2 linked regions of the Homo sapiens genome follow. The protein of the gene in region 2 binds, or shares a complex with, the protein of the main gene of each other region. Links are inferred from orthologs where the notes say so. Each region holds a gene or a part of one and is shown on either strand. Other genes may lie near its edges.

The links. Proteins that work in one complex are often made in the same cells at the same time.
Region 1: the proteins of LEP (region 2) and LEPR are in contact, whole or in part, in a crystal structure (PDB 7Z3R), measured with the Mus musculus proteins. The link is inferred for Homo sapiens from one-to-one orthologs. Residues at the interface, in NP_032519.1 of Mus musculus: Lys26, Val27, Asp30, Thr33, Leu34, Lys36, Thr37, Thr40, Arg41, Gln92, Gln96, Asn99, Asp100, Glu102, Asn103, Asp106, Leu107, Leu110; in NP_666258.2 of Mus musculus: Tyr439, Leu440, Thr441, Arg466, Ser468, Leu469, Tyr470, Gln499, Pro500, Ile501, Phe502, Leu503, Leu504, Ser505, Val560, Phe561, Glu563, Asn564.

What each region holds. Positions count from the first base shown.
Region 1 is NC_000001.11:65,423,656-65,430,681, reverse strand, and holds part of LEPR (leptin receptor isoform 1 precursor), read right to left. Parts: intron 5,380-7,026; coding exon of another isoform or gene 5,304-5,379; intron 2,901-5,303; coding exon of another isoform or gene 2,879-2,900; exon of another isoform or gene 2,673-2,878; intron 821-2,672; coding exon of another isoform or gene 634-820; intron 1-633. Other genes in the region: LEPROT (leptin receptor gene-related protein), read right to left, coding at 634-820, 5,304-5,379. UniProt on the Homo sapiens protein: Receptor for hormone LEP/leptin. On ligand binding, mediates LEP central and peripheral effects through the activation of different signaling pathways such as JAK2/STAT3 and MAPK cascade/FOS.
Region 2 is NC_000007.14:128,237,206-128,244,299, reverse strand, and holds the start of LEP (leptin precursor), read right to left. Parts: upstream 3,023-7,094; 5' UTR 2,994-3,022; intron 1-2,993. UniProt on the Homo sapiens protein: Key player in the regulation of energy balance and body weight control. Once released into the circulation, has central and peripheral effects by binding LEPR, found in many tissues, which results in the activation of several major signaling pathways.

The DNA of each region.
Region 1 (7,026 bases), on a different chromosome or scaffold from region 2:
GCTTATCTGATATTCAATGCCTCAAATAAGAGTTTCATAAAATTAAAATAGAACGTAATTGGAGGGAATAAAATCAAATAGTAGGAAAGACAGTGAATAGCAAATAATTGAATAAATTATACCTACAATGTGTACTCTGAAGACAAAAAGAAAGTTTTTGTCTTGGAAGTGAAGATGTCAACTTATTCACTGCATTTTCTGGAAGCTACACAGTTGTCCCTCAACATATACCTATTATACTGAGTTGAGAGTTGAGTCCATGATCCCATTTGCAGGAGAAGAATTTGAAATATCTTCATCTTGCAACTAGAAAAGTACTGCTAGCATAGTATCTGTGGATTACTGTAAGATTTAAGAGGCAGGAATTTAAGAACAATTCCAGAGAATAGCTTAAAGTAGAAAAAGTAAGAAATCATATCGTCTGGCTAAAAGTTGTAAGAGAAATAAAGAAAGCACTCTGAAGGCATGGCCGAACTACTGTTAGGCAGGTCTAAAGTAGAGGAACAGAGAAACTAAAAACACACGGCCTTGAGTATAAAGCCTAAGTAATGAGCATGAAATGGAGGTCCCAGACACAGGCCTCTGAAGTAAACTCAGCAACGGTTGGGCAAAACAATAGAAAATAAAACTTACCACAGCCACACGAGCAAGAATAACAGGAAATCCAAAGGCAGAAACAACAATTCCAGTAGTGAAGAAATATGCCAGTTCCCGACAGGCACTACTGGTTGCATCTGAGTCATAGGTGACTCTTTTGGCAATGAAATGGGGGATGGGGGAGATGGCGTGGAAAATCAGGACGAATAAGGGCCAGTAAACGCTGTCAGTTGGACCCAGGCAAAATCCAAAAAGAAAAGTAACAGTTACATTTTAAATGAAAGACATACTACTATTTCAAAATCATTGCTATTTTAAATGTTTAGGTCAAAAAATTAATTAATTGTGAATATTAGAACATAAGATGATTTCTACCAGGGATAGATAAGTAGTGATAATTTTAAAATTACTATGTAGGTAGCTTATATTGTGTTAAGAAGCCACTATATAATATATACCCTAGAAACTTTACTGTTTTCTGTACCACTGAGCCACAATTTCTTTAAAGACAGAATTTTAACTTGGTCATTTCTGCCTTCCCTATAGAACATAGTAGAGTGTCTTGCAAAAGCTAGTTCGGTAAAGATCTTTTGAGTGCACGCATGCTTGAAACCTTTTAAGAGCTTAGAATAAACCCTAAATTCCTTGCCCTAGCCTACAAAGCCTTTATGGTCTGGTATTATCTACTTCTTCCATTCATTTTGTACTCTTTTCCCTTCATTTGCTTAATCTGTAGCCACACCAGCCTTTTTTCTGTCCCTTGAACACTCTTGAGCTCATAGCTGTTATCCTGGGGCCTTTGCGCTAGCTGTGCCCCCTGCTTGCAATGTCCTTCCCCATGATCTTCTCATTGGCTGACTCCTTCATACCATGTGATCTAAACTGACAGATTCCTTTCTAAAAGCAGAACTTTCCCTGGTCATCTATTCTAATGTACCCCAGGTCACCCTCGAACATACCACCCTCTTTGAACTTTCTGCACAACACTTATTCCCATCTGATAGATTAGTCTTGATCAAACGCCATTTATCTCCAGGGCCTAGAATGATGTACTCCATTTATACTTGTTAAATGAATAAAATAATAAATAAATTTTAAGTACGGAAGGCATGAAAATAAATATGCTCACTAGTGAAAAGCTTAGATGTACTTTGATCTTCATTATAAGAGCTCACAATTAATAGTGTAATGCAAAAACAAAACAAAACTGTTTTCCTCCCAAATTTCAACATTTTGCAATTATAAAAAAAAAATTGCCATCTGGTTTCCAACAGTATTTTCTCTATCAGTACTTCAAAAATAATCTTTTTTTCTCCATCAGACATTTCTTATGCTTCATTTCTTAAGAAAAAAAAAGTCTCTGCTCATTTTTATATATACACTACAATAATTCATATCACCACAATACTGTAATCACACAGATACGCCCAGACAGCACCTACAAGCAGGAGTTGGGATGAAGCCACACTAATGAAAGCCTCCCATTCCAGCCACAGATCTAGGCAACCAAAAGGCAAGAAGGGAATGTGTCCTTCAAGAGGACTCAGGATGGAAACAGTGGATTTGGACCCCTGATTTTAAACTAGAGGGATGATAGTATGTTTCAAGAATCACCAAACAATATTGTGGGAAGTAGCCCTTAGACATTCTCTACTTCAAAGCCCTTCTTTCAACAGTGAGAAAGGAGACACAGAGAGGGGAAGGGGTTTGGAATAGATATGTCACCTTACATATCCACAGCCAAGAACTCTTAATTTTTCCTGGAATACAGTGACAGTTTTGTGAAAAACAATCTGACTCTATGTTTTCATTCATAGTAAGCCACCGATATCCAACTAAGAGAAATATTAATGTACAAGAAACCTTGTTTATATATAAAATGTAAATATTAAATATATACAATTCAATAAATACATAGGCCAGGGGTGGGCCAACTTTTTCTATAAAGGGCCAAAGAGTAAATAACGAGGATCTGCAAGCCATAAAGACTATCTCAACTACTCAACTCTGCCAAAGATAATTGGCAGAGCAATGCAAAAGCAGCCAAAGATAATTCATAAACAAATGAGCATGGCTGTATTTCAATAAAACCTTTATTACAAAAACAGGTAGCAGGTTATATGTGGCAGTTTGCTGACTTCCAATATAGATGATAATCCTGGTTCACTATCAAGATACAGCTTTGGGAGGCCAAGGCAGGAGGATGACTTGAGGCCAGGAGTTCAAGACCAGCCTGAGCAACACAGAGAGACTCGGTCTCTACAAAAACTTCTAAAAAAAATCAGCTGGGTGTTGTGGCATCTCTAAAAAACAAAAAATTAAAATAAAGATAGAAAACAAACTTATTTGTAGTAGCAGTAATGAGTCATTTTCTTACCTTACAAAGACAGTGTATCACAGAGAATTAAAACTCCTAGATTTACAGTTGGTTGTGGAATAGTGGAAAAACGTTTGGTCAAGGGCGTCAGAACATGAGCTCCATTTCCATGTCTGCCATTTTAATTTTTTTTCTACTTTTTTATTTAAGAGACAAAGTCTCACTCTGTCGCCCAGGCTGGACTGCAGTGGTGTGATCACAGCTCACTGCAGCCTCCAACCCCTGGGCTCAACCAATCTTCCCACCTCAGCCTCCCAACCCTGCTACAGGCACCATGCCTGGCTTATTTTAGTTTTTTGTAGAATGGGGTCTCACTTTGTTGCCCAGACTGGTCTCAAACTCCTGGCTTCAAGCAATCCTCCTACCGTTGCCTCCCAAAGTGCTGGGATTATAGGCATGAGCCACCACGGCCGGGCTCTGTCACTTACTGCTGTTCAATCTGGGTAAGTCTTTAACTACCCTGGGCTTTGGTTTCCCAGCGAGAAATGAGGATAATAATACCGTATTACATTCCAAAAGCTAGAATAAAGTAATTGCTGTGAAGGCTCTAAACAAATATAAGTGACCGCTTATATCTGGATCCCTCTTGGGTTTAAACAATTTCTGTAATAGTTGGCCAGGACTGCGGTGATGGATTTGAATTCATCACTGTCATAATAACTCACTTCAATAGGTCTTAACCACATCATCATCATCTTTTTTTTTTTTTTGGAGACAAAGTCTTGCTCTGTCGCCAGGCTAGAGTGCAGTGGCACGATCTTGGCTCACTACAACCTCCACCTCCTGTGTTCAAGCAATTCTCCTGCCTCAGCCTCCTAAGTAGCTGGGAATACAGGCGTGTGCCACCACGCCCAGCTAATTTTTTGTATTTTTAGTAGAGATGGGGTTTCACCATGTTGCCTAGGATGGTCTCGATCTCTTGACCTCGTGATCTGCCCGCCTCAGCCTCCCAAAGTGCTGGGATTACAGGCGTGAGCCATGGTGCCTGGCCTAATCACATCATCTTCTATCTAGTTGTTCAAGCCAATCACCTGGGAGACATCTAAGAACTCTCCCTCCTTGTTGAATCCTGACATCGATGAACAAAACCTGTTGGTTGGTTTGGTTTCCTAACTCACTCTCCTTTTCTTTCCATTCCTACTGCCCCAGCCCTCAATTTTGCTTGATTTATGATAGTAGTCCCCTACTATTCTCCCTGACTGCAGTCTCAGCTCTTTCCTATCTAGTCTCACGTTATGGCAAGAATGACATTTTAACATAACCCCCTCCTCCAAACCCATTCTCAAGATATTTTCCCAGGTTCTATTGTCTGATGTATAAAATGGAACCTCCTCTACACGGCAGGCATATAGAGCCCTAAGTGCTGACTTTTACACTCTTGACTAACCCTTCTTTTGCCACTCCACTACAATTTATGCTGTACCATAATGTACCATGTGTGGTTTCCTGAAAAGGCTATATACACTTTCATGTCTCCGGGCCTTAGCATTCAGCTTTCCTGGTGCCTAAAGTGCTTTTTCCCTAGAGATCTGTATGGCCTGCTTGCTGATTTTCTTGACATTTCTTCTCACTTTTTACCTCCTCTGAGAGGCCCTCCCTGACCACTGTCTTCCCAGCTTCTGTGCTCTTCATCTTTTGTACCATTTCTACCTCTGACAGTATGCATACTTTTGTTGTTTACTGTCCGTCTCCCCCACTGAAACACAAACTCTGAGAGAGCAGGACCTTTGTTTTCTTATGTCTTAATCCCTAGTTCCCATAACAGTAGCTGGCACATGGGAAGCATTCAACCAACAATGGTTGAATGAAAAAATGTGTAGAATGTTCCCTCTGCCTGGAATGTCCTCCCCTGACTCATCACCCTGAAAAACTCTTATTCATCCACCTAGTCTTGGCTCAGATACAACCTCTGCCATGCAGCCTTCCCTGACTGTCCCACTGAAACTCAGGTGCACTTTATCCGAGCTCCAGCGTACTGTGCTGGCATCTCCACTGCAGCTGCCAGATTACTGACTAGACCGTTTGCCTGTCTCTCACTCACAACTAGAACTTTACCTCCTCTTTGAGGACAGGACTCTCTCTTCATTTGTGTGTCCCCAGCTAGTCCAGAGTAGGTGTTAAACAAATGCTTATGGAATGAATACATCAATTTTTAACAGAGCCCTCTGCAAAAGTACACCTGACCCACAAAGGGACTGTGTTCATAAACTGGGCTCCACTAACTCACTGGTTAGAACTTGGTGCTAAATTGACCGAACTCTCTAACACCCATACTAATAGTGACAAAGACACAGAAAGAGGAATAGTTCTTTTTGAAATGATAACTTACCCATAATCCTCTAAGGCACATCCCAGCATAAGAAAAGTCAGTCCAATAGCCCCACTGAAGGATAATGCCACGAGAGCTGTGAAAAATAAAGCCAAAAGTTAAAGTTCCCACAGTAGAGGTTGTCAGGCACTAGAGGGTTTGGGGAAATGGGGAGTGACTTCTAATAGGTCCAGAGTTTCTTTGGCGGATGAGTAAATTTTCTGGAATTAGATAGTAGTGATGGCTGCATAACCTTCTGAATATACTAAAAACCATGAAATCTTACACTTTAAGAATGTTAATTTTATGGTATGTGAATCATTTATCAATAAAAACATTTACTAAAATAAAAAAGAAAGAAAAAAAGGTCCCAAATTCAAGCAAATGTAGCAATTTACTCATTTTATTGAGGTTACATTTGACCCGTTACAGACTGCATTATGTGTGTCCCTTTCAAATTCACATGTTGAAACCTTCCCGGCTCCATCCCTCTCACCGTGAGATGCTATCAGGAGGTGGACCTTTGGGAGATAATTAGGTTCAGATGAGGTCATGAGGGTGGGGTCTCCACGATGGGATGAGTGCCCTTATAAGAAGAGAGAAAGTAGAGCACACACTCTCTCTGTGTTTCTCTCCCTCTGTTCTCCAATGTGAGAGCAGAAAGCAGGCCTGCAAACCAGGAAGCTGGCTCTCACCAGACACCAGATCTGACTGCACCACAATTTTGGACTTCCCAGTCTTCAGAACTGTGGAAACTAAATGTTTGTTGTTTAAGCCACCCAGTCTAAAATATATTTCTTATAGTAGCCCAAACTGATTAAGACAATGACCCATGTCTGCCACCTTGAAATCATAAAGTATACAAAGGTCTCAAGTAATTCCAGTACCTAACCCCTATCCAATGGATGAATTCCCTCTGTATTTGTCACCAGAGGGCAGCCAGTTGGTCCACATAACTCCAGTGAAGGAAAACTCACTACCTCCCAAGGCAAGTCATTTAATTCCAACAGCTTCTAAATGTTGAAAGCCCTCCTTCTTTAAATTATATCCAGAACTGCCTCCCTGTAATATATACCTTTGATCATTTTGCCTCCCCAAACCACAGTACTGCAAGTATTTGAAGATTGTTTTCATGTCTTTGTAGGAAACAATTCCCAACTAGTGTGCACTGAATAAAATATGTATTCCCTGTATCTATTGGACACTAGTCTCTGCGGGAGTAGGAACGTATTTGCCCTTGTTGTGCTGCTGAGTGAGAAACAGAGTATCAAGGTTGTTACAAAATCTTGAGCTCTGAGTCACAAACATGAGTCAAATCTTAACTCTGCCACCATCTGGTCTTATGACTTTGGGTAGAAGCTAATCCTCTGAACCTGATTTCTCACCTGTAAAATGGAAATAATGGTGCCACCTTATTGAGCTTATGGGAATTAAATGAGATAATCTATGTAAAGTGCTTGGCAAAAGGAGGTAGCCAAATAAATGCTGACTGACTCAGGTATCTACTCATTTTAGCAATGTTCTTTGATAAAGGTAGAAATCAAAAGCATAGGAGACTATCTTATCCAAATTTTCTTCTGAAAAAAGTCCATAATACTCATAATTAGTATTAAACTAATTAATTAAGCCAATGAACATTTTTGATTGCTTCCTTTTACTTGAGAGAAGATTTAGAGAGACTCTTTAATAGGAAGGTGCCAAAGTGCTTTTTAAAAAACATCTGAAAGTATACACATGTTAAGGG
Region 2 (7,094 bases):
CCTGTTTCAGCTCTAATCTGTGTGTGTGTGTGTGTGTGTGTGTGTGTGTGTGTCAGGGTCTTGCTCTGTCACTCAGGCTGGAGTGCAGTGGTGTGATCAAGGCTCACTGGACCCCCGACTTCCCGGGCTCAAGCAATTCTCCCACCTCTCAGCCTCCCAAGTAGCTGGGACTACAGGTGTGTACCATCACATCCAGTTACTTTTTTTTTTTTTAATAGAGATGGGGTTTTGCCATGTTGCCCCAGCTGATCTGGAACTCCTGGGCTCCAGTGATCCACCTGCCTTGGCCTCCCAAAGTGCTGGGATTATATGCGTGAGCCATGGTGCCTGACTTCTGATCAATTGTTGAGGCTCCCTCGAGCTCTGTGTGAGGGGCATCTGAAGCTCCAGCAAGACTCAGAAGGAGAGGTTGCCCTGATCAATTAATGACACCTGTATCTCTGTACCTGTTCCAGCATCTATCACAGGCCTGGAACACGGCAGGGCTTCGTTAAATATCTGTTGCATGAATAAATGAAAGATTTCCCATTCTCGATCTGCATTGGCTAACTAGGGTAACCTGCCTCCTCAATGGTTCGCTTGCTCCCATCTTAAAGTCGCATCCTAGAATTCACTTTGGCCCAGCAGGAATTCTTACGGAGTTGTCTTAATAAAGACAGAAAATGCTTCAGCGTCCAGGTCTCCCTCTCTTGGGGACCTTGGTCTGCTTCCTGCACTTCCTATGTGCCCTCTAGCACCCAGGTGGGCCAGGATTCCCTTCAGCTTCCTAAGCTGTGCTCCATCTTGACTGCCGTCCCTGGATACTCCCGCCCGTGGCCCCTTTCATGAGCCTGGCTCCTGCTCCTGCACTCTGGGACCCCTCCCCTTCTCAGAGACCCCTGCCCTGCCCTCCCGTCTTCTCTGCGGTTTCTCTTCTCTTCCTTGGCAACCCCCCAGCCTGGAGCACCCCAGAGCAAATGTAATGTACACCCAGATGGAGACTAAATCTCCTATGATATTAGTGAAATGTTGGTATGGGCATTGATTATAAATTCCATTCCATAGAGCTAACAAACTGAGCAGGAAAGACGGTAACATGCTGTCTGCTAAGCAACGAGGCACATTGGCTGTCACACGTGGAATAAGTGCAAAGGAGTCTGTGGGCCCAGACACCAAGTGTGTTGTTTTTAAGCAGAAACAACCTCTCTGTTTCTCTGAGACAACTGTGTGGACAAAGAAGAATTTCAAGGCTCTCTGCCGACTGGCCAGAATGGAGCTGCGGCTGCCAGACTCCTACCCCGGTGGGGATGGGGTAACTGACTGCCGGAAAATTTGGCTCAATTTTCCTTTAAATCATACCAGTGCTGTTCACAGATGCACAAGACACAAGGACTCTACCTTCCTGGAGCCCCTCTTCTCTCCTTGGCTCCCACGCCCCTGGTGGCATCTAAGCGGGGGTGGGACATTGACCCAGGTTCCGTGGCGGCCACCTCCACGCTCTGCATGGGCCACTCAGACGTGCAAGGCATCTGCCTGGGGCTGACGGGCAGGAATTCATTGCAACTTCCCTGGCTCTGTCCTTGGCACTTGGAGCCATTTCCTGGAATGGACGGGGAGGAAAATATTTCCCCAAATACCAAGAAGAGTTATTTTGGGTATAAAATGTACAAAATATGAGGAGGACGCTCCTTTAGCCAATGTGGAAATGTTCCCCTCAGCCCAATGTCCACAACTGCTTGGGAAGGGAAAGAACCTAAAAGCATCCACTGTTTCTCTCTTGCCTTGTCTCCCTGCCTAAGTGAGAGAAATGATCAGTGTGGCCTTCTTGTTTCTAAGGGCATTAGAACAGGAGCACTCACGTTGCTAGAAGCCTCCATATCTGGTTCTGCAGACAATCCTAATATGAAAGAGATTGGCAAAATTCCCCAGTTCCAGCTGCCCATGGCCCACCTCAGAATCCTACAGAACAAACACAACTCCGGCTGCCAGAGGTCATTCTGCACTGCAAAGGAAGAGAGCCTGTGCTCCTGGAACGGTACCACCAAGTCTCTGCTCTTCACCCACCTCCCCAAAGATCACCCTTCCAACAGAAATTAATCACCTCTTGGAAGCTGCTATTCTGAAATGACAGCCAGGCCACTTGTCTCACTTGGACCTAACTGTATTTAAGGAGTCACTTTCCCAAAGCACCACTATCTTTAAACTATAGAAACAGGAGTGTAAAGGCGATGGCACCCACAGTGAAATCCAAACCAAGCCCAGACTGAAGGAAGGCTATAGGTGAGCCTGGTGGGCCAACAGCGCGTATTTAGCAGTCCTGGCTAGAAGTTCCCTAATAACCAGTTCTGACCCCCAGAGACACCTCATTGTATGCATTGCAAAGAAGGCAATTTGCATGGCTTTGAGGACAGATCTGGTAAGACCCTGCACAATTTCTCTGGAAGATTTTGAGTCTTCCTGACACTTGTTTCCCCCCACCTCTACTCATCCTTGCCTTCCTCCCAGGCATTGGCCTTACACAGCCCCTCTCATTCAGAGGTCAGGAACTTCCCTGGAAAATGAATCCTGAATTCCTACCCGCAGAGCAAGGCAATGTCTGGGACTGAGACTGATCACTTGCATCTGCGTCTCTCCTACCCCCAACTTTATCTCCTTCAGACTGGGGTGGGACATCCTGATCTTTGGGGATGTGCCCAAGGCAATTTCCAATGCATCTCAGCTCTGCGAATGCCACCAGGTTGGTGGGTCTGACAGTCTCCCAGGGACCTGGCTGGTTCTGCAAGGTCCTGCCTTCTGGGCACCGGCACAGCCCAGCAGCAAATCCAACGCTCCCCAGCTCCCGGTAACCTTCTATCTGGCTAGAACTCGGTACAAAGCTATCATAGTCCAGAACTAAGCCATCCGCCCTGCATCCCTCCTGACTCAGTTTCCCCGGGATCCAGAGTTGTGTGGGGCCCTGTGGCCTGCCAAGAAAGACCAGCAGAGAAGGAGGAAGGAGCGCGCCGGGGCCTTACCTTGCAACCGCTGGCGCTGCGATTCCTACGGGGCTCCATGCCTGCCCGCCCCTCTTATAGCGGCCCGATCACAACTTGCGCAACTGCCCCGCAGGCCCCGGCGCATTTCTAGCGCCAGCTCCCGCCCCGCCCCTCAGGGTAGCGACGTGCCGGGCGGCTGCTAGCCCTGGGCCCGCAGTGTGCACCTCGCGGGGCCTCGAGGGAGGGCCTCGGCGCGCCAGGAGCCACGCGCGCACCCTTGGGTACCTCCCAAAAATTTGGGGGTGGCTGGTAGGAGCGAGAAATCCTTGATGTCCCTCCAGAGGCTCCGGCGCGACTATGGCGCAAGGACCAGCCCCTTGGGAAGGTGCTTCGAGCCGCGCGGGGCGCGGTCGGGGCGGGGGTGGCTGTGAGGGGCTCCGCGGAGCGGGCTGGGGCATACGGCTGCGCCCTCGTTGGTCCTGGCGCGGCTTCGGGGTGGGAGCGAATCGGGACTCGGCCCCGACGGCCCTGGACGCCAGGGAAGCCCAGGGTTAGAGGGAGCGGCCCGCAGTGCGCCAGGCTCCCCGACCCAGATTGCGGGGTTGGGGGTTCTGAAGTCCCACCCCTTCTCTGGCACGCGGAGAATCGAGTTCCAAGCCTCAGGGCAAGTTGTCTCTGGCTGGCACCCCAGGGAGTGCACGCTCTCTGGAGGGCTCCAGGCGGGCACTGTGGCCTTTGGGGACACTCTGGACATACTGTGGGTCTCCATCCTCAACTCCGTATTTCCTACGTACAAAGTGGGGGTTGGGGGGTGGTCCCAGATGTAGCCACGTTTTTGTCATCATAGCCTGTGAGTGGTGTGGTAGGCATGTTTCACCTGTATCGTTTGTAGTTCCCCGCTTTACATGATGGGTTGGTTTGTTTTGTTTTGTTTTGTTTTGTTTTACCCTTGGGCTTCAGGGATGAGGAATCTAAGGTCCAGCGAGGTTAAATGACTTTCCTTAGAATCCACAGCTGGTAAGGAATAGCAATGGGCTAGGAACCCAGGCCTATTCTGGTCCCCACTGCGCAGAGCAGCTCCAAAAACAAACCACTCCATTGAGAACCAACCCAGCCAGGCGTGGTAGCTCAAGCCTGTAATCCCAGCACTTTGGGAGGCCAAGGTGGGTGGATCACCTGAGGTCAGGATTTCGAGACCAGCCTGGCCAACATGGTGAAACCTCATCTCTACTAAAAATACAAAATTAGCCAGGTGTGGTGGTGAGTGTCTGTAATCCCAGCTACTTGAGAGGCTGAGGCAGGAGAATGGCTTGAACCTGGGAAGTGGAGGTTGCAGTGAGCCAAGATCAGACCATTGCACTACAGCCTGGGCAACAAGAGTGAAACTCTGTCTCAATAAAAAAAACAAAACAAAACAAAACCCATAACATAAAGCGGGGAACTGCAAATGACGTTGGTGAACCGAGCCTGCCACTGCCGGGTTTGGTAATGCCCAAAAGCTAAGAATGGTTTCTACATTTGTAAAAGTTTGAAAAAAAAAAATCAAAAGAAGAGGCCAGATGCAGTGGCTCATGCTTGTAATCTCAGTATCCCACGTTGGGCACCAGATATTGGGGGAACCTGCCCCCAATATTTCAACGTAGGTTCTTTCTATTTTCCATAAGTGTCAGCTGGCTGAGAAATAAAGAGAGAGAGTACAAAGAGAGGAATTTTACAGCTGGGCCGCCGGGGGTGACATCACATATCGGTAGTACTGTGATGCCCACCTGAGCCTCAAACCAGCAAGTTTTTTATTAAGGGTTTCAAAAGGTGAGGGGGTGTAAAACAGGGAGTAGATCACATGCTTCAAAGGGCAAAAAGGAGAACTACTGATAAGGGTCTGTGTTCAGCGGTGCACGTATTGTCTTGATAAACATCTTAAACAACAGAAAACAGTGTTCGAGAGCAGAAAACTGGTCTGACCACAAATTTACCAGGGCGGAGTTTTTCACCACCCTAGTAAGCCTGAGGGTACTGCAGGAGACCAGGGCGTATCTCAGTCCTTATCTCCATTGCGTAGGATAGACATTCCCAGAGCGGCCATTTATAGACCTCCCCCCAGGAATGCATTCCTTTCCCAGGGTGTTAATATTAATATTCCATGCTAGCAAAAGAAATTAGCAATATCTCTCCTACTTGCAGGTCTATTTATAGGCTCTCTGCAAGAAGAAAAATATGGCTCCCTTTGCCCGACCCCGCAGGCAGTCAGACCTTATAGTTGTCTTCCCTTGTTCCCTAAAAATTGCTGTTATTCTGCTCTTTTTCAAGGTGCACTGATTTCATATTGTTCAAACACACATGTTTTGCAATCAATCTGTACAGTTAACACAATTATCACAGTGGTCCTGAGGTGACGTACATCCTTAGCTTATGAAGATAACAGGATTAAGAGATTAAAGCAAAGACAGGCATAAAAAATTATAAAAGTATTATTTGGGAACTGATAAGTGTCCATATTAAAATGAAATCTTCAAAATTTATGTTCCTCTGCCACGGCTCCAGCCGATCTCTCTGTTCGGGGTCCCTGACTTCCTGCAACATCTCAGCACTTAGGGAGACTGAGGCGGGAGGATCAGCGCAACCCTGTCGCAAAACAAAACAAAAGAAGAATAGTTCTCATGGGAAAATTACAGGAAATTTGCATTTCTGTGTCTATAAAGTTTTGAATTCTGTCAACAAAAAATTGTGTAAATTGTTTATTCTTGTTGTATAAGTACCCATGTAATATCCTCAATTTTGCCTTGGCTTAGAAAGCCTAAAATGTTTTCTACCTGGCCCTTTAGAGAAAGTTCCCAGCCCTTGAACCAGGGAACACACATACATTGCACATTGATTCCTCCAGGCCTTTTTTCTTTCCAGTCCGTCTGTGGGGATGCCCAACTGTGCATCCATCGCTTCTCCCGGAAGAATCTCCCCATTCCACTAGGGCCTCTCCATCCTTAAAGAAGCTTTTCCTAGTTCCCCTTGCAGCTAATTCCTGTCTCTCAGTCTGGGTTGGGTGCCCCTTTCCATCTCCTCCCTTAGGTTTTAAGAGGACAGGGATTGGGCCATCAACTGTTTCAGTCCCGGTACTTTTCCAGTGCCAAGAACACATGGGTGCCCAGGGAAAATTTGCTGAATTGAACCCCAGGAACAACACACACCATAGAGATGATTTTTGTTATGTGTTATATTCATGTACCACTATACAGGGATTCCTCTAGACGCAAGGCCACTGGGAAGGTAAATGTTTAAAACTTGGGAAAACACACCTGCAGTGATGATGCGGAGGGAACAGGAAAAGCCAGGATCACACAGGTCCTGGAGACCACAGTCACATTGCATTCGAGGCTTCCTAATGGAAACATGTTTCCCAGAGAATGTGCATTCTTTGAGTTGGTAGGAGTCTATTTGGTCATTGCTATGCTCCTAGCTCATAGCCTGGTGTCTAGCTCAAAGTTTTTTAAATGAAAAATTTAAACATACAGAAAAGTGTGCAATACTATAGTGAACTACAATATACCCATCACCTAGATTTAATAATTATTATTTTCCATATTTGCTTCATTAATTATTTTGGCAAAAACATTTTAAAGTGTATTGCACACATCATGACATTTTATCCCTACTTTGGTGCTTCCCAAAAAATAAGGAAGAATTTCTGTGTAACTGCAAGACCATTATCACACAATAATAATTCCCTAACATCGTGAAAGCTAGTCTATACAAAATTTCCCCAAATATCTCCCTCTTCCACTATAGACCTCCTTAAACAAAATAATGAAAAATGAATAAACCACAAATTTTAGTGGATGTTTTCATACCTCCATCAGGACATCAGTGGCAGTATTTGGGAAGTTTTAAAAGGTGGTCTTTATAGCATCTCTTCCTCCAGTCAACAAACACACAGTCTTATATGTTTGTGAGATACATAACACACTATGCCTAAAACTTAGTGGCTTAACCCAAGACTATTTATTTAGCTCATAATTCTGTGGGTCCAGCAATATGGCCTGACTCATGCCTGTGGTGGCTGGCTGGCTATCAGCTAAGATGATGAGGGTAACTGGTCTAGCCTGGGCTTGTTTACATGGTGACAGCTGCTGGATTCCCTAGAGCAGC